Linked DNA regions of Homo sapiens. The protein of the gene in region 1 interacts with the protein of each later gene in a pairwise test. Each region holds a gene or a part of one and is shown on either strand. Other genes may lie near its edges.

What was found.
Region 2: the proteins of PPP1R3C (region 1) and LONRF1 interact in binary tests that used the Homo sapiens proteins (3 or more experiments, as listed by UniProt).
Region 3: the proteins of PPP1R3C (region 1) and EPM2A interact in binary tests that used the Homo sapiens proteins (3 or more experiments, as listed by UniProt).
Region 4: the proteins of PPP1R3C (region 1) and PPP1CB interact in binary tests that used the Homo sapiens proteins (3 or more experiments, as listed by UniProt).

Annotation. Positions count from the first base shown.
Region 1 is NC_000010.11:91,629,636-91,638,210, forward strand, and holds the start of PPP1R3C (protein phosphatase 1 regulatory subunit 3C), read right to left. Parts: upstream 3,437-8,575; 5' UTR 3,335-3,436; coding exon 3,321-3,334; intron 1,232-3,320; coding exon 292-1,231; 3' UTR 1-291.
Region 2 is NC_000008.11:12,744,840-12,752,526, forward strand, and holds part of LONRF1 (LON peptidase N-terminal domain and RING finger protein 1), read right to left. Parts: intron 1-7,687.
Region 3 is NC_000006.12:145,634,363-145,642,049, forward strand, and holds part of EPM2A (laforin), read right to left. Parts: intron 1,125-7,687; coding exon 883-1,124; coding exon of another isoform or gene 797-882; exon of another isoform or gene 718-796; intron 1-717. UniProt on the Homo sapiens protein: Plays an important role in preventing glycogen hyperphosphorylation and the formation of insoluble aggregates, via its activity as glycogen phosphatase, and by promoting the ubiquitination of proteins involved in glycogen metabolism via its interaction with the E3 ubiquitin ligase NHLRC1/malin.
Region 4 is NC_000002.12:28,747,301-28,755,359, reverse strand, and holds the start of PPP1CB (serine/threonine-protein phosphatase PP1-beta catalytic subunit), read right to left. Parts: upstream 3,531-8,059; 5' UTR 3,236-3,530; coding exon 3,184-3,235; intron 1-3,183. UniProt on the Homo sapiens protein: Protein phosphatase that associates with over 200 regulatory proteins to form highly specific holoenzymes which dephosphorylate hundreds of biological targets.

The DNA.
Region 1 (8,575 bases):
ATGAAAGCTAGTGGATTGAGAGGGAAGGAAGAAGGGAACTGAAAAAGTATTACCTTTATAAAAATAGTTTTCAACCTGTTACTTGATCCTTCAAAGCCAAATTGGGTAGCATCATCTGTACAGACCCCAACACTAAATTCTCAAGTGTCTTTCTTTTCCATAGCCAGGTCTCAAAAGCTCAAATCTAAACCTACTGATGGAGTAGCAAAGGCTTCCTAAAATTGAGCAATACAGACCTAGGATTGCATGGGGGAATATGACAAGTCAAGACCAGTTACATTGTTGCTTAATTCATCGATAAGAGGCCAAGTTCTCCATTCTCCCCCAGCTCTGCCACTCTGGGAAGAGCCCACTAGCCAGCCTCGGACTGCCAAAGATTGTTGACTCTAACTCTGTCTTAGGAGACGTCTGGTGGAATGCACAGTCCTGGGGTGCCATCTGTGTCTGCACCCCATCAGGCTTCCATTGAACATGAACAATTCTATAATTCTGACCATCATTGTTGTCCCAAAAGACTTGCCCATTAGCATGGTAAGAAATGCAGAACTCAATTTTCTGCTCAGTTGGAATGACAGGGGGTAAGTCAATGGCAAATGAGAAGGTATCACTATCTGTGCCACCATACACATTTTTCATATAGACACAGTCTACGTCAGTGTAGTTTTTCCAAGAATCGAAAGTGATACGGATCTGAACTTTCTTCTCAAAACTCACATTTTTGACTTTAACAGTCCCTGTCACTGTTCGCTCTTGCAACGAGCAGTTCTCCAGACAGACAAAGTTCTTCTGAAAGTGGCTCCGGAAACTTAAGTAATCGGTTGAAGGCTGAGGGAAATCTAAAATCAAGTTTTTCTCCTCGTGGTGTTTTAAGGCAGAGGAGATATCATTAAGGTCCAAGAGATCAAACTGCAGATCCCACGCTGGTTCTTCTGGGAGGTCGGAGAAGACATGGATCGCAGTGAGAGAGAGGCCCTTGGAGTCAGCAAACACAACGCGCTTCTTGGCTTGGTTGTGTGAGCACTTCCAGTCATTCTGTGATTTGGCTTTGTGTTTTATATTGAGACATGATTTCAGGGGCTTTAATTTATTCACAAAATGTCGTCGTTGAAATTCATCGTACGGGCCCAGGAAACTCTTCACAGGTGGTGAATGTGCCAAGCAAAGCCTCATGGCCACATCCACGGGCATGACCGAACTTGTCAAAGGACGTGGATCTAAAACCTGGATCATTCTGGAATGCAAAAAGAAGAGGGATTATCACCTGGATCGGAAATGCTCTTCCCCAGTGCCAAATACATATGTACTATTTTTGTGCTGACTGAATTATAGCCAGTGCACTAGATATCAGGCAGGTGCTATCATATGTAGTAAAAGAGAACAGTATTAAGTGATCAGATCTTCTATGTCTACCTCTACCCTTGGCCGGCTAAAGGCTATTAATTGCTTAAAACACTTAGAGGGTGATGGGGGTCTCAGTTTCCCCATCTGAGAAATAAAAGGGTTCGATTTGATTATCTCCAAGGCAGCCTTGAGAACTGTGTGCTCTGTTCTGGACCAGTGGTCCTCAAACCTGTCTGGTCACTATGTCTAGGGAATTCATTTTCTTTCTTTCTTGTCTTTCCTCCTTTCCTCCTTCCCTCCTTCCTTCCTTTCTTCCTCTCTCTCTCTCTTTCTCTTTCTTCTTTCTTTCCAATTCCTGGGACTCAGAACTACTGAGGCAGAACTTCTGGGGCTAGGGCCAAGGGATGGGTATGTTCTTAAAGCTTCCCAGGTGATTCTAATGACCAGACAGGTTCAGGAGCCACAGTTCCAGACCCTCTGCTCCCTCTGGCTACGTTGGCTTATTTTGCTGCTAAATTGATTGACACTTCTCTGGTAAGGTAATTCACTTGAAAAAAAAAAAATAACATGCAACAGTTTTGAGAGTGAGAAGGCTAGAGAAGAAGTCAAAGAATCATCTTTGCACTTTGATTATCATGCTCTTATTTTTCACAAATAACCACTGAAATACAAGCCAACAATTCATATGCACTTAAAAACTATATAATTGATAATTCACCTAAAGAGATGCCCATGACAAGTCCACATTTAAGTGGAAAAACTGATTACCTGAAAGTTGGAGTGTTTTAAAATATACATTTTATATATACAAACTTATAAATATTGAAAAACTCTATAGGAAATACACCTTTCCTAATAATTTAATAATTATTATTTCTGGGTGATAGGATTATAGATTATCTATTTTCGTTTTTGTTCTTTTTTGGCATTTTCTAATAGACATTTATAAGTAGAAAGACAATAAAACCATTTAAAGTTTTAAACATGACTATGCTCAGCAATATTAAACCAAGAAGCATCTATAAAGAAGACTTTTCTCTGACCTTTAGCCCTCATCATATATTTCCAAGCTTATGGTATTAAGATTTTTTTCCCTATCTTAGCCTTACAAGTAAGAGGTGTGTGTATACTGTACACGACATTTCTCAGTCTGGCTTTAGTAACTCTCCTCACAGCAGCTCTAAACATGTATGCAAGTGGTCATTATCACAAAAGTGTGTAATAACACTCGCAGAATTTACTGTGTTAGCTCTGGGGTTTTTCTGGGAGATCTGCAAACTTAGAACAAACAAATGAAAGCTAAAGCTATATTTGTGGGTCTAATAATAGTTAATAGGCAGGATTTTTAGAGAAGTCTTCTGCTAAGCTATGTCTGGAGAAGCTATTTAAAGTAGTTTTATGGGAGGTTTTTTTTGGTTTTTTTGTTTTTTTTTTTTTACTTTTTGCATTTATAGAAAGACAGTTTTAGTTTGGGTGATTTCCTTGGAACTTTAAGTCCTGGACAAGAGTTAAAAGTAATCGTTTGCTCAAACTCTTGAGATTTTGCTATGGCAAACTGTGATAAGAAGGACGAATGAATGCAAACGTCGTCCTGTAATTTTTTTCCTCCAAGCTAAACCACCTAACCAGCAATGTCAGAGTGCTGTTCTCACCACTTCAGCTGCCCGAGTCTTTGGGACATTTGTGCAGGACCAAAAGAACAGCCGCATCCATGAGAAAATCCTAACTCAAGCTGATTCACGTTAAGATAATTTCTGCTTTAAGATGCTGATTACTAAAATAGGCTCTGCTTAAGAAATAGAGCCAAATTTCTACACCTCCAAGGCCTCTCGGTTGCCAGATTCAACTACGCAGTCAGTCCACTTGTCCTCCCCCTGGGGTGTCCATTTCCAGAGATGATAGAACTGAAACGCCCCCCAACTTCCCCACAGCTGCGCGTTCCCCTGTGTTCCTAGCGCGCAGAGTTGCAGCGAACCTACCTGGTGCAGCTCATTAGGCAGAGAGGCGGCGGACCCTAAAAGCCAGCACCCGCTGCCTGCACAAATTCGAACCACAGCTCCAGGCCTTGCCCCCGCGGCGGTCGCTGGGAGAGACTGAGGGCCCGGCGCCTAGAGGCCGCTTATCTGCTCCCAAGCACGTGACCCGATCCCTGGGACCAATCGCCGGGCCTCGAGCCCCAGGGCGCGACCAACCAGCGCCCAGCTGGGGCGCCAGCCCTCGCCCCGGCAACGTGATCGCCCCGGGGCGAGACGTGCAGAGAGCTATCTGGGCATCGCGGGGAGGTTCTGGGACTCCGCGGCCAGCTGGAACCAGCCGCGTAACGGGAACCCTGGGCTAGGGGCCGGGCAGGCACGTACCGCATGCAGCGGGCGCCGGCCAAGAGAGAGCGCAGCCAGCCTCGCCCAGGCGGGGCGCCAGTGCCTCAGGCTTGGGGCGGCTGTTACTTGGGAATAGCTTTGTGGGTCACTGCGGGTGAATCTGCACACAGAAGATGTGGCTCAAACCGAATGTGTATCGCATTTGAAATGTTTATATCGTTCATTACCCGGTGTATCCGCATTTCTCCCTCACCTTAGCCTGCGCGATCCCAAACTGGCTGCATGCTTTTCGATTAGTATGAGTTCACAGATGCACCACACAGTAGACAGCTGCCGGGAATTACCAACTTATCTAACAAATGTTGTTAGGAAAGCATACGAGCCCCATAAAACACCAAGGTGGCATTTAATTAAAAGACACTTCGTATTTCTGTCTATTCTTCAATTTTCTCCCCTGCGGGGAACACTAAAGCCGGAAGTGAAATGACCCTTTTCACACATACAGCCGGTCAAGAGGCAGCAGTCAACCCAAACCCCTTACTCAATTCTGACGTCCTTTGGCAGTGGTGTGGAAATCAAAATGTTAAAATAAAATTTAAAAAATCACGCCGTATGTTTCATGGGCCTTCTGAGCCACTCACTTTCGCTGAAGTTTCATTATTTTGATTAGTTTGAAGAATTTTTAGACCATCATTTACAACTGTAAAATTAAATGTCTAAGTCAAGTCTAAATTATTTTTATAAAACCCACATCCTAGTTTTGCTCCCCTAATTGAGCTATCCATTAGTCAATTAAAATATACAAAAATTCCTATGTCTTTTAAACAACTGTCAAACAGTGGAATTGTTAAAATTATTAGAGTGAAGAAAAAAATCACACTGAATATCACTGGGAAAGGGACTTCATGCCTGGGTTTTATTTTTGAAATGAAATATCTAACTAATGGCAGGTCTTCTAGCCCCTTTAGCTCAACCAAAACTAGCTGGAAGGTCTTTGGATTGACACTTACTAGCTACACGAATCTAGGCAAGTTCTAACCTCAGTTTCCTCATGTGTAAAACAGAGATAGTAACGTTCTGAAGATGAAGTAAGATGGTGCCAATGAACAGACTCAGCACGATGCCCAGTGCCTGTGTTCCACCCGGGCTAGTTCCCAAGTTTCTACTTGATCTCTCAGCTAGAGTTTTTACTCTATCACCTCAAGGCGCCTGGTGCCTGAGCTAAAATATTGAGAATAGCTGCTGCTTGTTGAGCCTTTACTCTGTGCCAAACACTATGTGCTATCAATTCAATCCTCACAACAACCCTATGTGATATGTCCAATTATTAATCCCATTTTAGAGAAAAGAAAACGGAGACACTGAATGGTCAGGAAATCTGCCCAGTGGATCACTTGAGGCCAGGAGTTCAAGACCAGCCTGGCCAACATGGTGAAACCCTATCTCTACTAAAAATACAAAAATTAGCCGGGCATGGTGGTGCACACCTGTACTCTCAGCTACTCTGGAGGCTGAGGCAGGAGAATCGCTTGAACCCGGGAGGCGGAGGTTGCAGTGAGCTGAGATTGCACCACTGCACTCCAGCCTGGGCAACAGAGCGAGACTCTATCTCGAAAACAAAAAACAAAAAAAAAACCTGCCCAGGTTCTCACAGGTAGAGCAGGGATTAGAGCCTGGCTGATACCAGAGCAATAACCGCTGCACCATATTGTCTTATTTTAATGACCCATCAATGGTTAGAATTATGGAGGTAGGAGGTGATAGGCATCAAACTCTTTATTTCACAGATGAGGAACTGAAAGCTTAGACAGGTCAAGCTGCTTGCCAGGGGCTGGCTAGGTCTGAGCCAAAACTAGAACCCTGGGTATTCTTTTCCTCTACCCATGATTATATGTTGAGCTAAATAGTAAATATTACCAGTTAAAACTATGGAGAAACATGAATAACAATTTATGGTGATCGCATTTTGAGGGAAAGGTATCCATGCATAGAAAACAGAATGTGCTCTACAGAAATGTGAACAGTTCATTTTGGAATGGTGAGATTATGAGTGATTAAAAATGTCTTCGTTGTTTTGCTGCTCTGTTGTTTTTCTTAATTTTTCTACAATGAACATACACGACCTAATTAAGAAATAATTTTTCAAGGGCGTTAAAACTCTGGGATTCAACTAACACATATAGCGTACTGCTAGGTGCCAAGAACCGTGGTGGAAATTTTCACATGCTTGTGCCATTTACTCACACCACCCTTTCAGCCTGTTCCATTCATACAGCTTTCTCTCCTGCCCCCTGGTGTTGACTAATGCCATAGAAGTCACTCTCCCTTTCAGCTCCTTCAAATGGAAGATTCAGGGAGACCATGCTTTCTCCTAAAAGGACTCAACACTCACTCAATAAACCTCTAAATTGGATGATCCAGGCTTTTCACTTCTGTCTCCTTCCCAGCTTTTGCTCCCCTTCATTATTGGATGAGAGAAACTAGGATGGAATCAGTGTTCTTAGTTGTAGGTTGCACCAATGAAGACAGAGTAGAAAGGAATCGTGGGGAGTTGTACTATTATTCGTAGGATTTCTCCCACTGTGGTTTGGCAGCATCTAAACATTGCTTGGTCCTACCCATCTTAACAATCAATCTATCAGCAGGAAATTATTGAGCTATGCAGTAGTTCCAGCTCCATGCCAGGGGTTACAAAGTCTGAGCAGTCATAATCCTTTGACCTTGAGGAGGTTACAATCATTATTACAGAAAAACAAATTCATAGAATACCCAGCAGACATTTTAAGAAGCTACTAAGCAAGGAGCTGATAATTGTGGGGCTTACACAAGTGGGTCTCTTACAGCATTCACTCAACACGTTGCCTGAGAGCTGCCTTTGGAAAAACACCCTGGGGGGTTGCCAAGTTGCCAACTCATTTTCTGCAAGCTTGTCTTTTTTCAGTGCCTAATCAAGAAAGTACTTGAGAATTCAGCCTCATAGTTATTAATATAAAAATGTCAGTACTTTAACCACAGTTAGTGGTAACTGAGAGAAACCTCGTAAGTGATCTTGAAGATCACTTACGGAGTTTCAGTGAAAGAGTCAGGGAAGTTGCGAACTGGTTTTTTTTTTTTTTAATTATTATTAAAAGGAGCAGGTTTTGCATTTTGGAGAACAAAAAAGGTGCCAATTCATTTGTCTCAGTTAATAGTAAGCGCTCTTGTACACTATTTTCTTCTTCCTTCTTTAGCTACATTCAACAGGAACTCCAATATTAAGTAAAAGGATACAACCTGAAAAACATATACTGCTTACTTTGGGCTCGGCACTGTTTTAAGCACTTAGAAATATTAACTCATGTAATCTTTATAAGAATCCGGTGAGGTAGAAACCCATTTCACAGATGAGGAACGTGAAGACATCGAAGGTGCCAATTGTCCAAGATCACACAGCTAGTAGGTGACAGGATCAGGTTTCAAGCCCCTCTAGAATCCACGCTCCTAGTATGTGAGTTGCTCTGAAAAAGACAAGCACCACACTGGTAGCTACCAAGACCAAAAAGCAGCTCCGAAGGCCAAAGAGATCCCGAAAGGAGAAGGCTCGCTGTGGAATATCTGTGGAAGCTTCAAGGAGGTAGCGGGAATTGGGAAGGCCAGGAAAATGGGAAGAACTTAAATATGATGTGCTATCATCTTTAGGGCATTTAGATGACTAGAATACAACTTTGTGGCTCAGCAAATAAGAGAGCAAATAAGATCACCATTGAAACGGTGCCAGCCACCCACCGTTCCACTCAAAGGGCATATTCCCAGAGGCAAGTGGGGAAGTGAAAGGACTAACAAATCTGCTTGTTGCCAAGTAGACTATGCTACCAGCCATTCCGTTTGCACTAAAGGGATTTTCAAGTATAATTTTCACTACTGGAAATTTTTTAGTTTTTACCTCAAACCCCATTTGTAAAATAGTCCAGTAAGAGCAGACAATGGTCTAGGTGTGGTGGAAAAGCATAAGTGTTAGCAAAATAAGGGGTTAAAGAAAGTGCAGGCCTGGGTGAGGTGGCTCACACCTGTAATCCCAGCACTTGGGAGGCCAACGTGGGTGGATCATTTGAGGTCAGCAGTTCAAGACCAGCCTGGCCAACATAGTCAAACCCCTTCTCTACTAAAAAATAAAAAAATTAGCTGGGAGTGGTGCTGGGCACCTGTAATCCCAGCTACTCGGGAGGCTGAGGCATGAGAATCACTTGAACCCAGGAGGCGGAGGTTGCAGTGAACCGAGATCGCGCCACTGCACTCCAGCCTGGGTGACAGAGTGAGACTCCCTCTCAAAAAAAAAAAAAAAGAAAAGAAAAGAAAGTGCAGGATGCCGCCTGAAACATGTAGGTATCTCAGGTGAGGTGAGGAAAAGGAGAGGGGAGGGCGGATGAAAAAAAAGAATGATATAACTGTATCAGGTTGACTTAGTGGCAAATGGATCATGTGAATATTACACACATTTGCTACACATGCTTCAGGACTTTAGAGAAAGGAGAAGCCTCTGGGGGTCAGGATGGCCAAAGAGGACCAGGACTTATTGAGTAACTACAAGGAGAAGAATTTGGCTAAAGGTGAGGATTCTGGCTGGGGAGCATGAGGAGGAGAGGTCAAAGGAGAGAGGTTTTTTTTTCTAGGCAGACTCTCACCTGTTGCCTAGTCTGGAGTACAGCAGCACTATCTCAAACCTCCGCCTCCCAGATTCAAGTGATTCTCCTGCCTCAGCTTCCCAAGTAGCTGAGATGACAGGCATGCGCCATGACGCCCGGCTAATTTTTGTATTTTTAGTAGAGACGGGGTTTCACCGTGTTGGCCAGACTGGTCTCCAACTCCTGGCCTCAAGTGATCTGTCCACATTGGCCTCCCAAAGTGCTAGGATTATATAGGCTTGAGCCACTGTGCCA
Region 2 (7,687 bases), on another chromosome or scaffold:
TCACTACTGCAACAAGCAGCCCATTCTTGGATTTTTATTTTTTTTAACTTCCATTTTTTCTTATACATCAAGTTCTCACTCCTTTATATTTGATGACATGCACGTTCAGAACTGCTGAATATTTCCCCTTTTATCCATGCCTTCACTGCTCAATCACCTTTATACAGTTTCTTTACGGCAGCAGTGAAAGAAGTGACTCAGAAGACCCGTCTTTGAAAAAACAAACTATAAAATGTATCCACTCTGACCAAAGCAAAAAAAGACATATTCCTTCCCCTCTCCACACAGAAAAATTCGGGATATTGAGATCTCCCTAAAGGAGGTCCTAAAAAGTCAGTATATGTTGGGGTAAGAAGAGAAGATGCACGCCCTAAGTAGAGATAAAAAGAGCCAGATTTTAAAACTCTTTGTTCCCTAACTCCTTGTATGTAATGCTCTTATTGAAAATGTTAACCGATTATTTTGAATGATTATTTTTTTGGAAAAAAAAAAAAAAAAAAAAAAAACCAACCCCATCAGGTGAGTTCAAACTTCCAATACTTTTAAAAAAAGATTAGGACCATCACACTGATCTCAAATTCTTAAGCGCCAAGTGCGCTAAATGAGCCCCTTTGAAAAGCATACACAAGGTCTGCCTTCCACGTAAACTTTCAAGAAAGACAACAAAATGGCTATCAGTCCTGACTGTATCATTAACTTAAGTTTGAAAGAGTCAACAAGTATTTACTGTATGCTCTCTACGTGACCTTGAGGACACTACAGACGAGTCACCTCACTGCACACGCCATCAGGGAAGATGCTGGTGCTCACTCCATTACTGCAGGTATCTGTATTGCCCAGCAAGTGCCTGGCATATTATGTATTTTCCATTTTTGAAATCGACAAAATTTCAAAAGTTGTCAAAATTTTGACAACATTGACAAAATCCAAAGACAACATGGTTTGGGTTAATTGTATTGAATATGACTGTGGTACTTAACTCTGTGACCTTATTCTAAATCACTTAATATCTCTGGTCTTGTACCCATATCTACCAGAAGCAGGGACAGATGTGCTAGTTGTCATGATTTAACTCCCTGATCTTTATCTTTAGTCCTGATTTTTCACCCTAACTTCAGATTCATCAAATTTCCAACTGCCTGCCATAATTTTTCTAAACTCAGCATTCTTCACCAAAAAAGCATTTTTCATTGTATTCTCTATTATTGACACCACTAACTTCCCAAATCAGAATCAACTTTGTAAATGTCACCTCCTATGATATTCCTCAAATCTCCCCTTTTCCAATCCTATCTCTAGTAATCCTGGGTTAGGCTCCCCAAATCTCTAATACTATTGCAATAGCTTGCTCACTGATCTCCCTGCCTTCAGTTCTACTCTACCTATATCCTTACCATTCACAAGGTAAAACAGGTATTATTTAGTACAAGTTCCTCCATGCCTGGCTCCTGCCCATCTCTCCAGCCTTAATTATCATTATGAACCTTCCCACTCACTCAAAGTCCCAACCATACCTAACTACCCACACTGCCCCATGTACACCATTCTATTTCATGCCTCATTCCTGTGCTGAGCTCCTCCCTTACCATACCATTCTTTATCTTGATAAGTTTTTATCATCCAGCAAGACAGCTCACCAGTCTCCTCCCAAGATGCTTTGCTTTGGGTCTTCCTCCACAATTTATGATAACCACTAAGAGCATGATCTGGCTCTTCCACCCACTCACTGTGACTTGGGGTAAATTACAAGTAATCTCTGTACTTTAATTTCCTTAGCTTTAATATTCCGGGGCTTTTAAAACATTATTAACACCACTATGTGCTGTTCTAAATGATTTACAATCTTCAGCACAATTCTACATGGATCTAGGATTGTCCACATTTTTATAGAAAACAGTGAAGAGTATATGCAGCTTGCCCATGATCATACAGCTAGTAATTGGTGGATTCGAGATTCTAACTCAGGAAGCCAGCTCCAGAGTTCTAGCTGTTTACCTCCATGCTATTAATATGTTGGTAACAGTCTCTACCCCAAGGCTTACTCTAGAGAGTAAGTTAATCGGTGCATAGTACTTAGAACAGGGCTTGGTACATTGAAAGCATGGCGTGTTTGCTATTATGATTCTGTGCCTTCATCGTATATATACATTATTTATTAAAGTAATTTAATTCAAAGATGTTTGAACTCCCTCCGTTATTTCCTGCCTTTTATCCTCAGATCCTGGCTTTGATAAATGTTTCCTGAATTAGAAAAAATTCATTAAAATTTGATTCCTTAAGCTCAATTCATGTTCCCATTTTCTCCTTTTATACCCAGTATTATTTGTAAGTCATTCAGCAAGGAAAAAGATTTAAATAAGACTCTGCTCCACCATCTGAGGAATCTAGTCTTCGGCTGTCCAAAGCATTTATTTCATGGGTTGAAGAGAGAGTTTTCTATTCTAGAGTCATGGTTTTCTATCTTTGTTCCAATCATTAGAGATCCATGGTTAGTAACAGGTCTTAAAGTTGTTTCTTTAGTTCACCTTCAAGAAAGTTTTTTTCAAATCACAAAAGCTTAAAAAATGTTTACTCATACAATTTGAAAAATATAGAAATAAGAGGTAAAAACTATCTTTTACCCATCACAAAGAAATAGCCAGTGTTGGTGTTAACAAAAGAAAAAATTAGCACAAATTTAAGGTTCGAATTGACTTTTATTTGTGATTCTAGGAATGGGCAACAGCTCATTCTATAAAATGGGTCTTCTAATGAGCTAAGCAGAGGAGGTTAGCCTTCTAGGCAGAAAAGGTTTAAAGAAAGCAGAAATAAGGGACAAAAAGTAGATTGGTTGTTTTAAAGTTGAAAACTTTCTTTACAGGTTAAAACAGAGAGGGCTGTCTTATTTCACTAACTCAGGTTGACTGAAATCTCTCTCTTTTTTTTTTTTTTTTTTAGAAAACTGGCTCATTTCAGTTCAAATTCAAAGTTCAGTTTGATTATGTGGCACTCAGCACAAGGGCCTCCATTCTAATTCTGTCTGGTCTGCTGGTGCCTAGTGCAGGTCAGTCTAAAACAAACGGCCTCCCATACATTTTTGTTCTTTATGTGTAAAGTACATTTTTAACATGTAGTTTTATAAAATATACTATATATGCTGTTTATAATCTGCTTTTTTTCCCATGTAATACTAGTCCACATGATTTTTAATAGTTGCAAAATATCCTACTATATATACAACCTATTTAAAAATTTCCTACTCTGCAATTAAGTTACTTCCAACTTTTGGCAGTATAAAAAGTATAACAAACGTCTATCTTTATGTACCTGCTTGCCTTTTTAGTTATTTGCTATACAGTATGTAGAAAGTTATTTATTGCTTGTACTTTATTTATTTGAGAAAAGATCTAAGATCTCACTCTGTAGCCCAGGCTGGAGTGCAGTGGCATTAACATGGCTCACCGCAGCCTCGACCTCCTATGCTCAATAGATACTCCAGCCTCAGTAGCTGGGACTCCAGGTGCATGCCTCCACACCTGGCTAATTTTTAAATTTTTTTGTACAGATACGGTACCACTATGTTGCCCAGGCTGGTCTCAAACTCTTGGGCTCAAGTGGTCCTCCCTCCTTGGCCTCCCAAAGTTTTGGCATTATATGCATGAGCCACCATGCTGGGCCTAGAAAGTTATAAAGATATACAACATTTCCAACACATTCTGCCAACCCTTCTTTTATAAAGACTTTATTTTATACTCCCACAAGCTGTGTTTCTTCTCTTTGCTAGAAATACATAAATTAAAAATAGCATCGTAATTTTAACAACCTCCATTTCTTCATTAAGTTTGACCTTTAAAACTTTGTGTTTATTCAGTATTTGGGCTGTGTATAAAGTTCTCTATTCATATTCCTTTTCTCATTTTTCTGAGTGTCTTTTTCTGAGATTTATATATCAAGCTATCGAAATTTTCAAAGGCTAACCAGAATATCAATTTTTTTTTTTTGCTTCTATTGCTTCATTATGTTCAGTATAGTATGACTTGGTTACCAGGGTTGAGCTCAAAGCTGCCAAGTGATAAGCTGTTGATCATTGATTAAGAATGTTCAGGAGTAGGAGTTTGGGATAGTAAGATCATTAACACTAGATTCAGAAATTGGGTTCAGATCCCCTTTTGGTAGTTTAACTCTTTGAACTCTCCTGACCTATAATATGCTTACCTCTAAAACACCTACATTTTATAACTGCTGTGAGGATTGAATAAGATAATGCATGTTAAACAGTTAACACCAAACCTAAGACATACATGCTCCATCTATAATAATTGTTGATAACATTCCAAAATATCTCAAAACAAAGTGATGAAGATATTAGATTAACCCTTGATACAAGATACAGAAGAGTATTTTCTACCTTGTCTTTTACCCACATAAATGGTAGCCTAGATAAGAAACATCTTTAGGGATCAGGAGAGCAGACTGGACAACAGACAGCACAAAGGTGGGTCAAGGGGATGGGAAGCAAAAGACCTTACCAAAGGGAAAGAAAAAACCAAACAGAAGCTTCCATCTTGCATTTTAGAGTTCCCTGAAGTCATTCAACTTCAATAATAAAACAATTCCAATTTTGAGAAATACCTTTGGAAAGAGGCAGAACACTATACAAATTCATTTAAAATTTTACTCGAGATTTTCCAAGGCTCTTAGAAATATTCCAACAAACAGAAAAATGATTCTGAATAAACAAAAAGTTAATATATAAATAACTAGAAATCTAAGATAATTCAGTTTTGGTAAATTCTGCATTTGATGAATGAAAAACAGTTAAAAAACAAATTATTCATTTGAAATGGGACACTTGAATCAGTTTTTTTATCATTTATATCAAAAGCCATTACAGTTGATCTTTTTAGTAACCCTGAGGCACTAAGAAAAAAAATCCTTAAAGTACCTTATGAATCAAAGAAAATAATTAGAGATATAGTCTCGGTTAAGTAGAAGCCAATTAAGCAGTAAACCCCATTTTCTAGGGATTTTCAATTTGCTGCAATTACAAAAGAAACAAAAAATACAAACTCTACAAGGACAGGGACTTTATTTTACTCCTTTTTTATATTTCTAGCACCTAAAACAATGCCTGGTATATAGTAGCTACTCAATAAAAATTTGCTGAATAGTAAGAATATTTTAGATTTATGTTTTGCGTGCTAATTTTTAAATCAACTTTGTGTTTTGAATCAATATGCACATATTTGGGTTCTGCTTTCAGTTTTAACTTGGTCACTTACTTCCCTTAAGAAAGTCACCCAAAATTCTTGCAACTTTTCTTACATCTGTGAATTAGGGATATTAATACTTGCCCTCCTATCTCACATGAGTTTGTGTATGGATCAATTACGATAATAGAAATGAAAATAATTGTGAACTATAATCACCATACAGACATCAGTGTTTACTGTTTCAAGTCCTCTGCACAATAAGTAAGGACATAAATAAGTTAGCAAGAGCCTCCCTTTACCCAAGGGGGATACGTTCCAAGACTCCCACGGATGCCTGCAACTTCAGATAGTACCAAGCCCTATATATACTATCATACCTGTGATAAACTTTAATTTATAAATTAGGTGTAGTAAGACATTAGCAACAATAACTGATGATAAAATAGAACAATATAACAATATGCTGTGATAAAACGTACATGAAAGTGGTCTCTCAAAATATTTTATCATACTGTACCATGTGGGTAACTGAAACCACAAATAAGGGGAAACTACTGTATTGTTTAAATTCAAATTTCTTCATTTTAACCTAGTTGAGTTACTAAAGATAATAAAAACCCTCTACATTTTCTTTAAATGTATTCAGTATTTACCTATAATTTGACTGATCTTCTGATAGCTAAAGCTTTTAAGTATCTATAGTTTATTGATGAATGCTAAACTGCTAGTTAACATGTGTAAACTAAAATCGGGATGTAATTGTTACTCTCTACCAAGTGATAGAACAGAACAGGATGTAAAATTGCAAGGTTTAGATTCCACTTTCAGCAAAATCCCCTTCTAGCCGTAACACACTTCTACATTTTAAAAATATTGAATTAATATTTACTGGGCATTTACTCTGTGTCAGGCACTATTTAAAGCACTTAGCATGTTTTGACTCATTTGATTCTCACAACACCCTATGAGGTAGAGACTATTCTCATTTTTCAGATAAGGAAACCAAAACACAGATAGGTTAGGCAACGTGCACAAGGTCGGAGAGAGGCGAGGGCTGCGTCAGGATTGGAACCCAGGTGTCAGCTTCCAGCATGCAGAGCTTTAATCACTAAGCCACACTGCATGTCTATCCATAGATGCCTCAGTTTCCCTCTGAGGATAATATTACAGTACTCCATAGAATTCTCTGTGAAGATCAAATGATATTAATATAAATAATGTAAAAATACTGGGTAACAGTCAAGGATTATATTTTTATTTTTATGTTTTTTTTTTTTTTTTTTTTTTTTGAGACTGAGTCTTGCTCTGTTGCCCAGGCTGGATGGAGTGCAGTGGTGTGGTCTCAGCTAACTGCAACCTCCACTTTCCGGGTTCAAGCAATTCTGCCTCAGCCTCTGGAGTAGCGGGAACTACAGGCATGCACCACCACGCCTGGGTAATTTTTTGTATCTCTAGTAGATACGGGGTTTCACCATGTTGGCCAGGCTGGTCTCGAACTCCTGGCCTCATGCGATCCGCCCGCCTCGGTCTCCCAAAGTGCTGGGATTACAGGTTTGAGCCACCATGCCTGGTCAAGCATTACAGAATTAATATTAAAGACAAAATTTTCCTTACCCAAATATTTTAAAACAAAATATCACCCCCCCACCTTACAACCTTTTTTTTTTTTTTTAACCTGTACAAACTGTAAATTATACTGTTCTGTTGTCTTCCTCTGGGGGAGAGGTGAACACACGAAGGAGATAAGTCAGTGTAAAAAAACATTAAACACAAAAGGCAGGCAGCATGGCTTAGGGGGATCATTTCAGTAGGCTCAAGCACAGAGATTCAGTGCAGGAAAAACTTTACATAATATCCCTGAATACTAAAAAGACAGAAAGTTATGAAACATCTGAGAGTTAATACCAAAAGATCAATGGTTTAAATGTTATCTAAATATATTTCAATTCAACAGAAACTTATGTAATCTAAATGGGAAACTTCTGATTTTGGCAAAGGTTTTCAAGCTTTCTTTTGCTGCTGGCAGAGATAAGTTTGGATGTGTGTGGGCTAACTGCAGACTAGATTTTTTCTAGTTAATAGTATTTACTTGTTTCATTATAAGAATTATACGAAGAAATTATAGTGAAGATCTTTTTTCATTATCAACAATAATGACAAGATCATTAATAACTACAACCGTACAGTTATATAAATACATGTCAAATGCCTAGCTTGCCAATTCCAAAGAAGTTAAAGCCTAAGGATTGTACAAACAGCTTATGACTGTACTAGTTAACATTTTGATTTACACCCATAAATTGTGAGACACTTATAAATCGGCCCTTTACCAACTCTAATTTGTTAGCTCTGAGATTTTTTTCCTGTTAGTTCACATTAAGAATTCAAAAGATTAAAAAACTTATCCTCATTAGTGCCATTCAGACATTTTCAAGCATGGAATTAATGATTCTTGAAAGAACTAAAAATGAGGAAAAAATAAGCTAATGCAGTGA
Region 3 (7,687 bases), on another chromosome or scaffold:
TGCCCTTTCTCCCTCCACATCTACCTATCAAAGCCATGCCCACCTCAAGTGCCATGGCATTCACGCAGCCTCCCTTTGTCGCTCCCCAGAATGTGCTCTTCCCATGCATAACCCTCCTCCAGCACGGTCCTCACTCCTCTCTTACCCATTCCCCTCTGTGCTGTAATTAGTGTCGAACTCGTCTTACTGTACAACTGCTTCTTCCTGCTATAGGATAGCGTCTAAAGTCCTTTTTGTCGCTCAAATCCTGCAGGATCATCTTTCCTCGTTCTCTGATCCAAGCCACATTGGTCTTTCAGTTTTTGCAACACTCTGTGCTCTCTCCTGCCACAAGGATTCTTCTAAGCTGCTGCTTCTGCCTGGGTCACTCCCTCCACTCACTCTTCCTCCAGCCCACCCTCAGATCTTAGCCCAAACACTACTTTCCAAGAAAACCCTCTTTGACCCCACTTCTTGGCCTGATTACCTGTACATAATCTCATAGCAATATCTATATATTTTCTAACAAAAAATTCATCATAGTTTTAAACTTCTATTTTTAGTCATTTGATTAACATTTGCCATCCCTATAGGACAATGCGCTCCGTGGGGGCAGAAGTTGTGCCTGTCTTTCTTTACTGCTGTGTTCCTAGCTACTAGCATAATGCCGCATACCCAGTACATACACAATAAATATGTGTTGAATGAATAAACAAAGAAGCCACATTAAACAGAATCTTAGCCACAGTGTCAAAACATATGTATTATATATATTAAATCTAAAATCTTATATTTATTCCATTTCTACCATTCATTTTTAAGATATTAAATTATAGATAGACAGACAGACAGCAAGGGTTTCTCTGAAATACAGCAAGGAGGCAGAACAGTTCTGATCCTTACCTTCGGTGCTCATATCTGGTGTTGGCATCCAGATGTAGGCCAAGCCTTCTTCCCTATATAGTTTAATCATAGTGTCTGGAGTCATGGGCTCTGGGTAGCGGTTACAGCCTGAGGAATTCTGTACAATATCCCATTCAGTCTGGAAATTCATTACAGCTGTAATCCCCAATTCATGCTTCAGTTTGATGGTTACATGTTCCACCTGACGAGGGCAGCTACCCAGCCAGATATTTGGTAGAATTCTAATGAGAACATATGGAGACAACTATCACTAGTGTTGTTCTGATTTGAGGTTTAAGGAGCTGCATAAAACATGTAGTATTAAAATATAACTAACCTTTAAGTCTGGCACAGGAAAAGCTAGATATTTTAGAATATGAACACCAATGTTATTATTGAAAGAAAAAGTACTGGTGTTGCTGCTTTGGGGAAAGCAAGTATTTCAATTAACTAGAACGCCAGGAAATGGACATTTGCAAACCAAATCAAGCAATATATTAAAATAAGTCTACCAAGTTGTACTTATTCCATGAATGCATATATGGTTCCACATGATAAAAATCCATCAATAGACTTCAAATGCTAACAAATTAGAGGTGAAAATTCCTGTAATTATATAAATAAATTCTGAAAAACAAATTTCAGCAGGCATTCCGGTTTAAAAGTCTATGCAAATATTTCAAATAGTATGAGACTTTTAACATATGCTAAAGAACAGAAGCTAAAAAACAACAGACTTCTTTTAATAAGATCAGAATCAACATTAATTCCATTAGTACCTAGCAGTGTTCTATAGGTTTCATCTAATGCTGCAAGGTAAGAAGGAGAAATAGCAATATAGTTTCCTTTTGGAAATTATCATTGAGGTTTATTATAGAAAAAAATAATGAAATGAAAAAGTTAAAAACTCAGAAAAATTTTAATAACCCTTTAGACAAGAACCCAAGGAGAAAAAACATAAAACACGCTTATCTGGCCGGATGCAGTGGTTCACACCTGTAATCCCAGGACTTTGGGAGGCCAAGGCAGGCGGGTCACCTGAAGTCAGGAGTTCTAGACAAGCCTGGCCAATTCTACTAAAAATACAAAAATTAGCCAGGCGTGGTGGTGGACACCTGTAATCCCAGCTACCGGGGAGGCTGAGGCAGAAGAATTGCTTGAACCCGGGAGGCGGAGGTTGCAGTGAGCCGAGACTGCACCACTGCACTTCAGCCTGAGTGACAGAGTGAGACTCCATCTCTTAAAAAAAAAAAAAGTTTATTCTCTCCTGTAGGGTAAGCAGAACTGAAGTTTTAGAAAGACAGTGGTGGATCTTCATTAGGGAACTGGGCAATTGGCTTCTCATGTTAACAATGTTGACAACAACAGCCAAAAGGAAAAATGTAAAAACCAAAAAAGAAGCTGGCGCAGTGGCTCACGCCTGTAGTCTGGCACTTTGGATGGCTGAGGCGGGGATTGCTTGAGGCCAGAAGTTCCAGACCAGCCCAGCCAACATGGCAGAAACCTCGTCTCTAGTAAAATTACAAAAATTAGCTGGGCGTGGTGGCACACACCTGTAATCCCAGCTACCTTGAAAGGCTGAGGCCTAAGAATTGCTTGAACCCAGGAGACAGAGGTTGCAATGAGCCAAGATCACACCACTGCACTCCAGCCTGGGCGATGGGGCAAGAACCTGTCTGAAAAAAAAAAAAAAATTAAAAAAAAAAAAGATTTCGTATAACATTTAGTAACAATTGTATGATGTTAGGCCAAGTTATTTATCAACTCTAACCTGTTGGTGTACTCATCTTTAGAATGGGTCTAAAAATAACTCATAAAAATCTTGTAAGGAATAAATACAATTAATGTACCTGAATTGGACTGAAACCGTGGATGCACAGTAAGTGCAAGCGGATTTCATGTGTAGCTATAGTGATTTACTTATTTTTGTAATTTACTTTGCATTGCATTGTAAAGATTATTCAGTTAATTCTTCATTGTTTCCTATATTCTTCATTTGAATGCTACAGAGTAGAAGATACCCTATTTTTTTGTATGAAAGCTAGCTTTTTTTGTTTTTTGCTTTTTTCCTTTTGGTGGTGGTTGTCATTGTTGATGTTAACAGGAGAAGCCAATTAACTAATCCTCTAATGTGGTCATGACCCATAATCAGTGAAAATTATCTCATAAGATCTGGCACTATCTGTCTAAAGCCTGAGCCCTGCTTCCCCTGCAGGAGAAGAACAACTTTTTTTTTTTTTCTACTTGTGTTCTTGTCTAAAGGGTTATTAGGAATTTCCTTGCAGAAATCCTTATTGAGGATTATTATGGGAAAAAAATGATAAAAGAAAAGTTAGAAATGGCAAAAGACTTAATGGTGATGGAAAGAGAGGCATGAAATCCAAGGCCTTCATCTTATCCCTGGATCCAGATAATTCTTAGATATTCCACTGGACCCAGTGTACTGAGAGAAAGACCTTGAGCAAGGACACTTGCAGGGTGCCCAAGAGCCGAGCTTCATCAGGACCTGGATAGCTGAGTATTCGGGGGAAATGTCACACCCACTTGCTGATTGCCCCTTCCCTCTGGCTGTTGAGTGAGACCTGCCTCTAACTAGATGTCCCATCCCTCTTTCCAGATCTTTCAAAGATCCCTTACCCAGGGACCTGCTGGATGCCTAGTGAGGTGATAGTGCTGGGCTCACGTATGTATACTTTGGGGTTCAACTGAGCACACTAAAGCTCCTAAGCTGGAAAAGAGGGAAGTGGACACTTCCGTTACATAACCAAGAAATAGAAACTATTATAAGACAGTAATTTTTATTTGTTTGTTTGTTTTTTTCAACTGGCAAAATTTTAAAGAGGACTGGTAAAATATTAAAGAGAATTTCATGACAGGCAAGCTAAAATCCAAATACCACTCAGCATTTTCTTGAATATTGCACTCTTTGAGTGGGTACTAGTTAGTATTTCGCTAGTCGGTAAATGCCAAAATAAAATGGCTGGCTGATTTTTCACACAGGATTGCATAAAAGCTCAAGAATAGTTCATAGAGATACACAAAGGGTAAATTAGGACATTTGAGCCTGCAATATAAGAAATCAGAGTCAGCATATCCCAAATCAGAGTCAGTCTATAGAGTCACATGTTGTTGCTAAAAGAGGTGTTATTCTATCATATCCTTCAGCCCTGGCCTTCAAATGTTTTTAAGGTGATAGGGAAACTCAGAACAAGTCAAAGATAAACAGGCCCAAAGCCAGTAGCTTAACACATATATCTCACACATAACATTTCTGATGGAAATAAGCCCTTAAAATATACATCCAGACATGGTGGAAGTCAGAGTCCATATTTAAGAAATGAGTATGAACTAATTTCTGCTACTTTAAAACAAGATGTTCTAAACCTAGAGACAGATAACTAAAGATAAACTCTGAAAACAAACACTATATTGAAAGATAGAAAAGTAAGGTTATAAAGTGATTTGTACTGAATCATTGTATGGGATGCAGAGACAAAGACTGGGCCTGTTGGAAACAAACACATCAATGGATTCTGCTTAATCAGACAGCTAAAGTGCCCTTCATGTGCATCCTATTTCAGTTTGTTTTCCAAAAGTAGGTGATATATTTCTAGTTATAGGATTCACTGGGGGTAACAAGATACATGATATGCTTTCTAAAAAGTAATTAAACTTTTACTCATCCATTCAAAAGAGGATAATTTGATACCATTAAAAATTCATTTTTACTCATCTCATCTCAGTTTTAGTCTTCTTTTGGTATCAATGTTATTTTAAACAATTTTTAACATCAGGATTTTTAGGGTGAAAAGAAGCCTGTTGACATATGAGATTAGAGAATAAAAATTCTCTGTAAGAGTAGTTTTAATGCAAGGCATACCAAAATTCAAAGATATAATGGAATAGAAGTTATAGCTTACAATTATAAGTTATATCATAAAACTTCCAGAGACTTGTTTCATAAATAATCCACTATCAATCATGAACTCAAGAGATTTCTGGCAGCTCCACTATAGACTATTTGGAGGTAAAGAGACGCCAACTAAACCAACAGGGTATTGACACTCAGTCAGCTCAGGACAGAAGTTTTCAAACCTGGCTATGCATTCAAGTCACATGAGGTACTTTTATAAAAACATCTATTACCAGGATCCATCTCAGAGATACTTATAGAGAGGCTTGGGAGTTAGGCCTATAATTCTGTAGGTTCTTTGATTTTTGGTCTGTTTAGAAATTAACTAGATTGTGTAAGCAGCAGATTCCAGAACCACCACCTTGGACCACCAGTCCAAGGTCTCCATATGCATGTAAGAGAAGCTTAATATATAGAGCCCAATATCTTTTTTAAATATCAGTAAAAAATATGGAGATGAGAAAAAATGGGCTTCCTCAGTCTGACATATCTACAAATTAAGGTGAGTTCTTATCTTTGTCCAAAAAATAGTGTCAAGACTACAAATAATTCCTAGAGTGAGAAATTATTTGTTATGAGAGACAATGTATATCCATGTGTTTAATGCACAGTACCTTCTAACTGGTCAAAACTAAATCTACTTCTGAGCCACGACAAATATTTAATATAGTCCTATGCATAAGAATGTACTTTTGTAGAAAAAAAATTATTAACTAGGGTTTTGACTATTTCTGCTGTGCTATAATCAGATTATACATAAATAAAATCTACCCTAGTAGTATTACAACTTAGCTAAAGACCAGGGGAAAGAATAGATGGCTGACATTCTGGAACCTTATTTTCTTAGACTGCAAATCAAAATCAATTTAACTCATTTGAGTGAATCTGGATTTGTGGTTCCAGGTAACCATATCATAATACTACAGTATTTGTTTCACCCATCAGGCTTGGGCCTGTGGTCCAACAGCTACTGAAGCGTATGAATCAGACGCTCAACTGTCAGTCAAAGGAAGCCTCACTGGCACATCAGACAGAATGACCATCCAAGCACTTTGTAAAAATCACCACAGGGTATCGACAGGAGAAGTGGGTGTCTAAAAGACAAAAGGTATTGGGAGACAAGTCCATTCAATGGACTTCACATTACAGCTTCCATCACTAATGGCCATGAGAAATGGCAGAATAACCTTTTCCTAAAGGTGAAAATCAGCATTATTTTGTGTCCATCGAAAGAAAAAAAGATGAGGAAAACCACAGGAATAATGGAACCAGCTTTTGTTTATTTATCACACCTAAAGACTCCAACTGTTGAACTGCAGTGCCCTCTTCCTAGCCATACAAACGGAGCACCATTTCAAAAAATAGAGAAAATCGATTTTGCTGAAGCTCTTAACAAAACCCAGCTAAGAATTTAAAAGGAAAGAAAAAAAAGCACATTTCCTAAGTTGGATAATTGTGTTGCATTTATCTTATTTAATATTTTACGGGCAATTCAATGAGAAATTAAAATATGAACTGGCTCTTAAATAATGAGTAAAGGGAAAAAAAGTCTATCCGTCCTATAATTTAGATCTCATTAGTGGGAAAGCAAGAGAAACATTAAAATCAACCTCTAGTAAGCTCCAGGCTTCAGTAGCACATACAGCTCCTTCTGCTGAAAATTTGTCCTCTAGCATCCAGTGTTAAGTTATTAATGCCAAACTTCTACCCCAAAAGGGTGCTTATAACAGGCTCCAGTTAAGGCTGAATAACTACTCAAAGACAAATTCCAATTTAGAAAGTGATACTAATTAGCTTCTTTATTAAACCATAGTTTTATTATAGTTTTTTATGAGTCATACACTATGTATATAGAGCACAAGTTAATTTCTGTAAGTCCAGTTCATTTCTTACATTTTGGGGATGTACTGTGTAGTTTAGAGCCATATGAAAGCAAATAATTTTTGACAAAATGCTCTTTTATTTTCCATATTATGAAATGCCATATCATTAATTATAAAGGCCTATTATGTTGACTTGTGTCCCCCTCCCCAAACTCCTATGTTAAAGTCCTAACGCTTAGGAACTCAGAATGTGACTGTATTTGGAGACAGGGTCTCTACAGAGGTGATCAAGTTAAACTGAGGTCATCAGAGTAAGCACTGACCCAAAATGACTAGTGTCCTTATAAGAGGGGGGTTTCAACACAGACACAGAGGGAAGACAATGTGAAGATACAGGGAGAAGATGGCTTCAAACAGATGCTGCCACTCAGCCCTCAGAAGGAGTCAACCCTGTGGACACCTTGATCTCAGACTTTCAGCCTCCAGAACTGTGAAATAATAAGCTTCTATTGTTTAAGCCACACTGTCTGTGGCACTTTGTTAAAGCAGCCTTAGCAACCCAATAAAAGTCTAAACATTCAGGCTTAAAATAGAGTCATTCAATCATCCAGACTCTTTTCAAATATCCATACACCAGACGTCCTTAAAGCATTGTAATAGATCTTTTTTCACCATTCATCCTGATGTTTGGAATTCTTGCAAATACAACTAGCATTTGATGGTAGTTCCCAAATGCTCTCTTTACACAATACTACCCTTCTTCCTTCCTTCACTGATGTCCTTCCATCTATCACCTGCGCACCTCTCACATGAGGGAAAAGATCACCAGACTCCGACTAAAATGACTGAAATACGTGGGCCCCTTCTTGATCTAATGATTTGGTACTGAAGTTCTGGGGTGTCTAGGTTTAATAAATGTGGTATAGTCCTGGGTCCTCTTACATGACTCTCAGAGAATGAACCTCAATGAAGAATCCCATGATGTAAGAGCACAGTCTCTCAGACTCACAACTTCTTAAGACTGAGTCCAAGAGAGTTTGGCCTTCTTGTTTTTGAGCATATATAGCCC
Region 4 (8,059 bases), on another chromosome or scaffold:
CTTTGAAAATATCATATCAAGGTCAGGCGCGGTGGCACATGCCTGTAATCCCAGCACTTTGGGAGGCCGAGGCGGGTGGATCACTTGAGGATGGAAAGTTCGAGACCAGCCAGGCCAACATGGTGAAACTACTAAAAATACAAAATTAGCCGGGGCGTGGTGGCATGCTGTAGTCCCAGCTACTTGGGAAGCTGAGGCAGAATAATCGCTTGGACCTGCAGGGGCAGAGGTTGCAGTGAGCCAACATCACCCCACCGCACTCCAGCCTGGGTGACAAGCGCAAAACTCCGTCTCAAAAAAACAAAAAACAAAAAAAACTTATCAATAATACGCCCACCTAAAAAAGAAAAACAAAAAGCAACTCATAAAATGTAGTCACCAGAAGTGTGTATAGCTGATCTGCGATTTAATACAGTAAAAAAGAAAAAACAATCAGGAATATGTTGTGGGGCTACAATCAGCATTTTAAAATGAGATCAGGTCCTGCTGAATGTTTTCCCCTAATGCAGAGAAATTCTTGCCAAATTTTTACTTACACGTTCATTTGACACTAAAAACACTAACCATAGTTATTCTTGCTAGGCAGCTTTACAAAATATCACTAACTAGCATCTAATATCACTGAAAATCCAGGTGGACAAAATTTTCTTTGAAGATTAAAAATAATTATTTACTAGAAAATTCAAGTCTGCTCTGGACAAGTCTTTCAACAGGTCTGGATCTGGGAAGGAGCTGAAAAACCTAGAATATTTAAGAATCCCTTGGGGGCACTGTCAAACTAAATATGCTTCTGTAGGATGAAGAAGTACTGATAGAATGTGTGCTGAACATAGGACAGAGAGGAGGCTGAAAAAGCCTGAAAGACACTTGTTTAGACTGGGAGCTCCTTGAGTGAAGAGACTGTGTCTTATCTTAGGATTGCTGGTGCCTGGCAAGGAGGAGGTCAACTTGTTAACGCTTGCTAAATTAAGAGAGAAACGTATCTGGACTACAATTCTTACCCGCCCCCCCCCCGCCCCCCCAAAAAAGGAAAACAGATTGTACAAACCAAATATTTAATTTGAATTCACAAAAACAAATGGAATCACTTATTTTTCCCCCAGTGTCTTTTCTAGTAACCTTGCACAACCCACTCGTGAAGTTTAAGTACCTGTAATCATATAAAGGTGCGTCTAATTTAAAAGGATACAAACATTTTAAAACATAAATCTGTTTTATGCCTACAAAATATATGGAAAATGAAATAAAATATAAATAAATTGAGATACAAACATATTTTTAAAATATTTAAATTTACAAGCAAAGTTTAAAATATATAAAAATATGCCGGGCGCGATGGCTCACGCCTGTAATCCCAGCCCTTTGGGAGGCTGAAGCGGGTGGATCACGAGGTCAGGAGTTCAAGACCAGCCAGGCCAAGATGGTGAAACCTCCGTCTCTACAAAAATACAAAAAAAATTAGCCGGGCATGATGGCGGGGTGCCTGTAATCCCAGCTACTCAGGAGGCTGAGGCGGAAGAATCGCTCGAACCCGGGAGGCGGAGGTTGCAGTGAGCTGAGACCGTGCCATTGCACTCCAGCCTGGGCGACAGAGTGAGACTCCGTCTCAAAAAATAAAAATAAAAAAAAAATAAAAAGGAGTAGGCCTCTACTTCCCAAATGTAAACAAGACATACACATTTTTAAATTAACTGTATTTCCCTCATAAAACAGTTACAAAATACAATTATTTTCAAAGCAAATTTCTCAAAGACCCAGCAAGATGTTCACATCTGAAACAAAGTCTTAGGTAGTGAACACTGACTGCAGGCACCAGGGGGCCTCCCAGGAATAACTTGATAGTAAAGGAAAAGGTAAATAAGAGTTCCTGGTAAAACTTTTGCTTCCTATTCAGTCTTAAGACTGCTGGATGGCTTTCACATCTGGAGCAAATACACAGTATTTAGTTACAGAACAGGTACTCACAGAACTTGGGTTTGAGATACCGACACATACTTTGAGAAAAAGGAATTACCCCTCCCCCATTACAATATTCTTTGATGATTTTCCAAATATAAGTACATACTGCTTCACTCTAGCAATTATCTTAAGGTAATTTGAAAGCAAACAGTACATATGCAATCGCTGGACGGCGGCTAACAAAGAGGCCTCTAAATTGTTTAAAAAGGATTAAAGGCTTTTCTACACACTCACAAAACAATTATTGATGACGAAAACTTTAGGGTAGAGGGACTGTTTGGCAGAAGACTGCATTTAACTTTGAATAATATCCTGCAATGAATCAATACATTTAACTCCCGGCTAGTCCACCTCTTCGTTTTCCCCCCTTGCCTTCCCACCAACATAAAACTATTCAATAAGAACACTTGAGCCCGGAAAGTTCAAATGCTGCGTAGACCTACAAATACCTTTCGAATACAAGACAGGCTTTAAAAATAGATTTTCACTAAGTTTGTGCAGAAATTAAGCTCTGCTCAAATCAAATGCAAAAGCCAATCCCTTCAGCAAACCCATCTACATACATCACATTTCTTAGGTGCATCTTCAACCTGATCAAATATCTTGTCTTACAATTTTTTTAGGCCAAGTAACAAACGGTAGATTAATTCCCGCTAATTTTATCCTCTCTTTAAGAAGAATCCATTCTATATAGCATTGTGTAAAAATGCAGAGCAGACGAAGCAGTCCTGTTAAGGACAGGTTTATATATATATACGTAAAATTCACTCCCGGAACGACAATCGGAGGCAGCCAAGGGCAATGCACAAAGAGAACAGAGAAGAACAGTGATTCCACGGACGCACAAAGCCCAGTGGCAGGCATCCTCTCCCCATCCTCGGGTCACCGGAGGCGAGCACCACGGCGCGCGGAGCCCGGCGGCCTTTCCGAAAGGCTGTCTCCCGCAGACCCGCTCCGCACAGCCTTCGGCCGGCGGGCCTGGCCCCCGAGGGTCCGCGGGAACGGCCCCCTCTCCCCCGATCTCCCCTGACCGCGCTCCCAGAGGCCGCTCCCCCGCGCCCAGAGCCTCCTCGCCCCCTCCTCGGTTCGTCCGCCGCGCCGCGCTCCCAGAGACTCGTCTCGGGGCGGGAAAGGGGTCCCCTCGCGTTCCGGCGGCAGACGGGGACGCAGGGGTCGGCGGCGGTGCCCGACCTCCCTCTGTCCCGCGGCCAGGCGCGCACTCACCCTCCAGCAGCCGGGTGATGAGGCTGTCCACGTTCAGCTCCCCGTCCGCCATCTTGTCGGCACAGACTCTCCTTCCCAGCAGCGGGAACAAGGGCTTCTCGGCGGCGGAGGCTGCGGCGACGGCTCGGCGTTCTCTCACCTACAAGTCACGCGGCGTTTCGACCCCGGCTCCAACTCCCCCTTTTCCCGGGCCCTCCCCCCACCCCCTCCCCGCCGGGTAGCGAGAGCGCGCGCACACTCGGAGGCACCCACGGAAAATAAATAAATAAACAAGAGAGGCCCCCTCGAACAGGGCCGCGTCAGACCCAGGCCGCCACCTCCTCCTCCTCGGCACCGCCCAGCTCCGCAAAGCTCACCAGCGCCGCCGACGGCCCCACCCGCAGCGCCACTCACTCCGCACGTCCCTTGCGCGCCGCCGCGTCACGCAGCTCTCCGCGCAGGCGCGCGGTGCGCTCCCCGCCGAGGCTCCCCTCGACGCCTGGGCCGCCGCGCAACCGCACTGGAGCGGCTTCTCCCGCTGCCGTCTTCGCGCAGGTGCGTCGCCCTCTCTCCACGTCCACGGCGCCGAGTCTCGCCACGGTGGCGCAGGCGCCAGGGAGGTTCCCCGGCTTTGCCGCGCGGAGGAAGTCCCGGTTACGCAGAGCGCGCTGGGGCAGGGCTGACCTTCCCCTTTCTCTACTTCACTGGCCTCCTCCAGACGTGGTGGTTGCGCCCTTTCGGCCTCGCTTTCCGTTTTTTGGCTTCATCCCCTAGATCTGCAAACAGTTCCTCGTGTTTCTTCCGTTAGCCGGGAAACGCGAACTGCAGCGTTTGGGACCCGGGTTTGCGCGTGTGGAAAGCAAAAGGGGTTACTCTGCTGGAGTTCGACATTGCAAATAAAGGTCTTTATCCCCGGCGGTTCTACAAAATTAGTTCTGCAGGGATTCTGGTTGAAAGAAGCGTTAAAGTGGGCCTTGTAGGAGTCAGCAATAATCCAATTTTACATGGGTGCAGGTGGCTGCCTGTGTCTAGCGCTTTCACACATCTCATATCTTCATCCACGCCGTGGGTATTTTTTTTCCACGGTGTGTTTCTGTTGCTGCCTCCAGTATATTGCTTAATCATCCTACCTGGTAATTATTTATGCATTTTTCTCCTACTCTCGACTCAGCTCCTAGGGAATAAAAACACATTAACTTATCTTTGTGCCCACAGCACCCACCAAGTATTTCCATCACGTAATACTGCCTCTAGAAAGGCAGGAGGAGAAGCAGTCACGCTAAGGATCTAGGCAAGCCAGATCTTTTGTCCGGTTTTAGGAGGTGGCCAGCCCTTACTTATTCCACAAGTGTTTTTCCAGAAACTCAGACTTGATATTGCCTCAAGTCCAAGGCAGTGTGCTTCCCCCACTCACATATCACTAATAGTAGCTAACATTTGTTCAGATCCCTGTATGTACTCTGCCACTGTTTTAAATGTTACACCCGGGTTACCTCATTTAATCCTTACAACTGCCCTGTGAGGTAGGTACTATTATTATCTCTACTTTGTAGATGGGATTCACCGAGGCACAGACGGTTAAAAAACCTAGCCCAAATAACACAAATAAACAGCAGAGCATGCAGTGCTAGAGTCTGCATTCTTAACAATTGCTATATTCTCCCTCTCCGTGAATGTGGGCTGAGATGCTGAAACAGGCATGTGCTGTGGGGGAGAAAAAGCTTTGTCCAACCAAGTGCTTTCTAATGTCCAGATGACATAGAGCTAGGATTTCCTAATGTCTTTTTTCCCCTATTTTTCTCTCCATTTCAGGGTTGAGTTTGTGCATCGATTGTGAACACAACAGGCAGCAGGCTATAATGGTGGTCCTGGCTGGAGTAGTTTTCACAGACTTCAGTAATCTGTGGAGATGAACGGGCAGTTCTCTGTAGTTTTCACAGATCACTGCCAGTTCGTTTTGAGGCCTTCAGGAGTGAAGACCTGGCTCATCATCACTCTTTGTTGTTTTGTTAAATTTATTTACACCCTACTTTATTCCAGAGGAAAGGATTTAACGTAGTTTACATAAATGTGTACATCAGGGTAAATTAAAAATAAGTACAGAGAAAAATAGGACAAAAGAAAACCGTGAGTGTGAAAGATAAGATTAAGCCAGCAGTTTTGTATGCAAAATGCATGGTGTAAGGTCCTATTGGTTTGCTGGAGGTAGGCCACACATATGACTCTCAGTTTTCTAGCAACCAAGAAAAAGATCAGTTGCAATCGGAGTAGGTGTTTTGGCTAAGCTGGAACTAGGACTTGAATATAGCAGCTTGTAGAGTTATACCACTTGCCCAAATCTCTTCCATGAGCCTCTTTAAGTGTAACAGAATGCCTGGGAGCACGTAAATGCTCCTACTTAGATGCCTACTTAGCCTCTAATTTTCATGGGGCCCATGAATCCCATGAAAAAGAACTTTGAACCCTGTCCACAATTAGAGTTCAGGTATACGCAGACATGTTTAAAGACAAGGGACACCCAAAGGAAAGATTGCACAGAGAGAAAGTGAGCATCCGAGAGAAAATCACCACAAGTGAGGCAGAGGGAGGCCGGTCTCAGCAGAGTTTTGGAGGTCGTGAGAAGAAGAGGTAGGAGATAGGAGAGTGGTTCCGAGTACTTGCCTGCTGATGTTACCTTCTCCACCCCCACCAGGTTTTCCAGTGCCTGGAGTCTTGGGCAGGAATGGGCCACTGTAAGAAAGAGCTTTATCACTAGGGCCTCAGCCAACTTTTCTGTGGGATATCCCTCCAAAATAATTAAGAGTTCAGAATGCTTCAGATTTTGAAGTGAAACTGGTACATATATTAAGTGTTACTTAATAACCCGATAGTTTCTAGGGCAGCTCACCATAATCCCAAGTATTAGCCACCACCCTCACCCCCTTCAGAGTAAAATGTGTTTCCTGAAGGAAGTTGGGAAAATGAAGAAAAAAAATACAAAAATCACCTATAATCTTACCAGTCATAGATGGCAGTTTTCCTGTCTTATTTCTGAATAATGGTTGTTAAACATTTGCCAGCACACCATAAGGCTTAGGGAGGCATCTGGGTCATGCATGTTAATATCCTTGGGTAATTCCAGAAATCTCTATGAAGGGAAACTCCTGTTATTTATCTAGACTTCCTGATTGCAAGGGGTTTGGGCATCATGATTTAGGGGTCTTAATAAAATTATTATTTTATTTTTACTAATAGATAATGTCTGTGCCTATCAGATAAAGGCAAACCAGTGCTCAGAGGAACCCAACCATCTCTGAATTGAGACCAGAGAGCTGTCTCTATGGATAGTCCTTAGAGAAGGCATTTCGGAACACAGTAAACAGCAGCCTGGTGACTCCGGTTAGTAAACGCAGCAAAGACTTTCATAGGGATGTTTTTCTTATATGCCTGTCAGTATTAGCCAGTAGCCAATCTGGTGTGAAAGTGAGTAAGTTTAGGTAGCAAAATGTGGAGGGGGTGATATATAGTTTTTTGCTGCTCTGGCTTAATCCAAGATGACTTTTAAATGAATGAATCAACATTCATTGGGCTGTCCTTCCATAAATATGATTCTTCTCAATCAAGTGTTTAATAAGTCTTAAGTAGTGGTAAGTTGAAATTTTACTAGTTGTATCTGGAGGTCAGCCATTCTTTATATCGCATGCATTAAGCTTTTATAGTCAGCTCAATTCAAGAAAATTGGAAAACCAGACAAGGACATATATGCATCATTAGGAGGCCACCTCTCTCAATACAGAGCCAGGCCTAGGTGGTACAGCCAGGCAGGGCCAAGATTTGTTCTTAAGATTTAGTTTTGGTTTCATTTCATTATACATATGAGAATAGCCAAAATTATAGCTAAGCCATAAGGCATGTCCTCAGCCAGTTTAGTCCCCCAGAATTATAAGGCAAATATAAATAAATGCCTCCTTCCCTGCCCTTGGTCAGTAACCTCCCCGGTGGCCCCAACCAACTCTCTCTTCTCTCTCTCTCAGTTTGTCTTAAGCTAACTCCATAGTACATCCGTATCTTTCAAGATAAAGTGATTGAAAAATAAATGTCTAGTAATTGAAGGAGTTAACTGGCTATTTAGAACTGTTAACTATAAGGCAATTAAAGCTAGGTGAACAGCTACCACAAGTAATGACTATTTAATTGTTGAAGAGTTTATCTGTGGCCTTTTTTTCTTGTAATTAGATTACAGGGCCAGTTGCCTTTGTTACAATAAAAGCAAGTCATCTACACAGGTAAGAATGTTTCTCTTTTATTGCTCCCCCCTCCCCCCATCCTGCTCACTGAAATGGATACCAGGAAATAACTGTTTGATGAGGGAAAGTATACAATATGTGAATATTTGTTTCAAATGAAACAGTGTACTGTAAATGTTTTGTTTCTTGTTGCTCTGTTTCTCCTGTAGTATATCCAAATCACATATAATTCACCTTTTCAGTTGGAGGTTTACCGCTAAATGGCTTAATTTTTTTTCTTTTTTTGAGACAGAGCCTCACTCAGGCTGGAATACAGTGGCTCATTCACAGCTAACTGCAGCTTTGACATCTCAGGCTCAAGCAATCCTTCTGCCTCAGCCTCCGTAGTAGCTGAGACCATAGGCATGTGCCACCATGCCCGGCTATTTTTTTTTATTTTTAGTAGAGACAGGGTCTCGCTGTGTCAGGCTGGTCTCGAACTCCTGGGCTCAAGCAATCCTCCCACCTCGGCCTCCCAAAGTGCTGGGATTACAGGCATGAGCCACCGCACCTGGCCCTAACTGGTTTTTATGTCTCTGTTTCAATTGGGTTTTGGTAGATAAGACAAGGAAAGCATTACTTTTTTTATGTAGTTATAAAATGAGTAGCTTCTCATAATATATAAGACCACA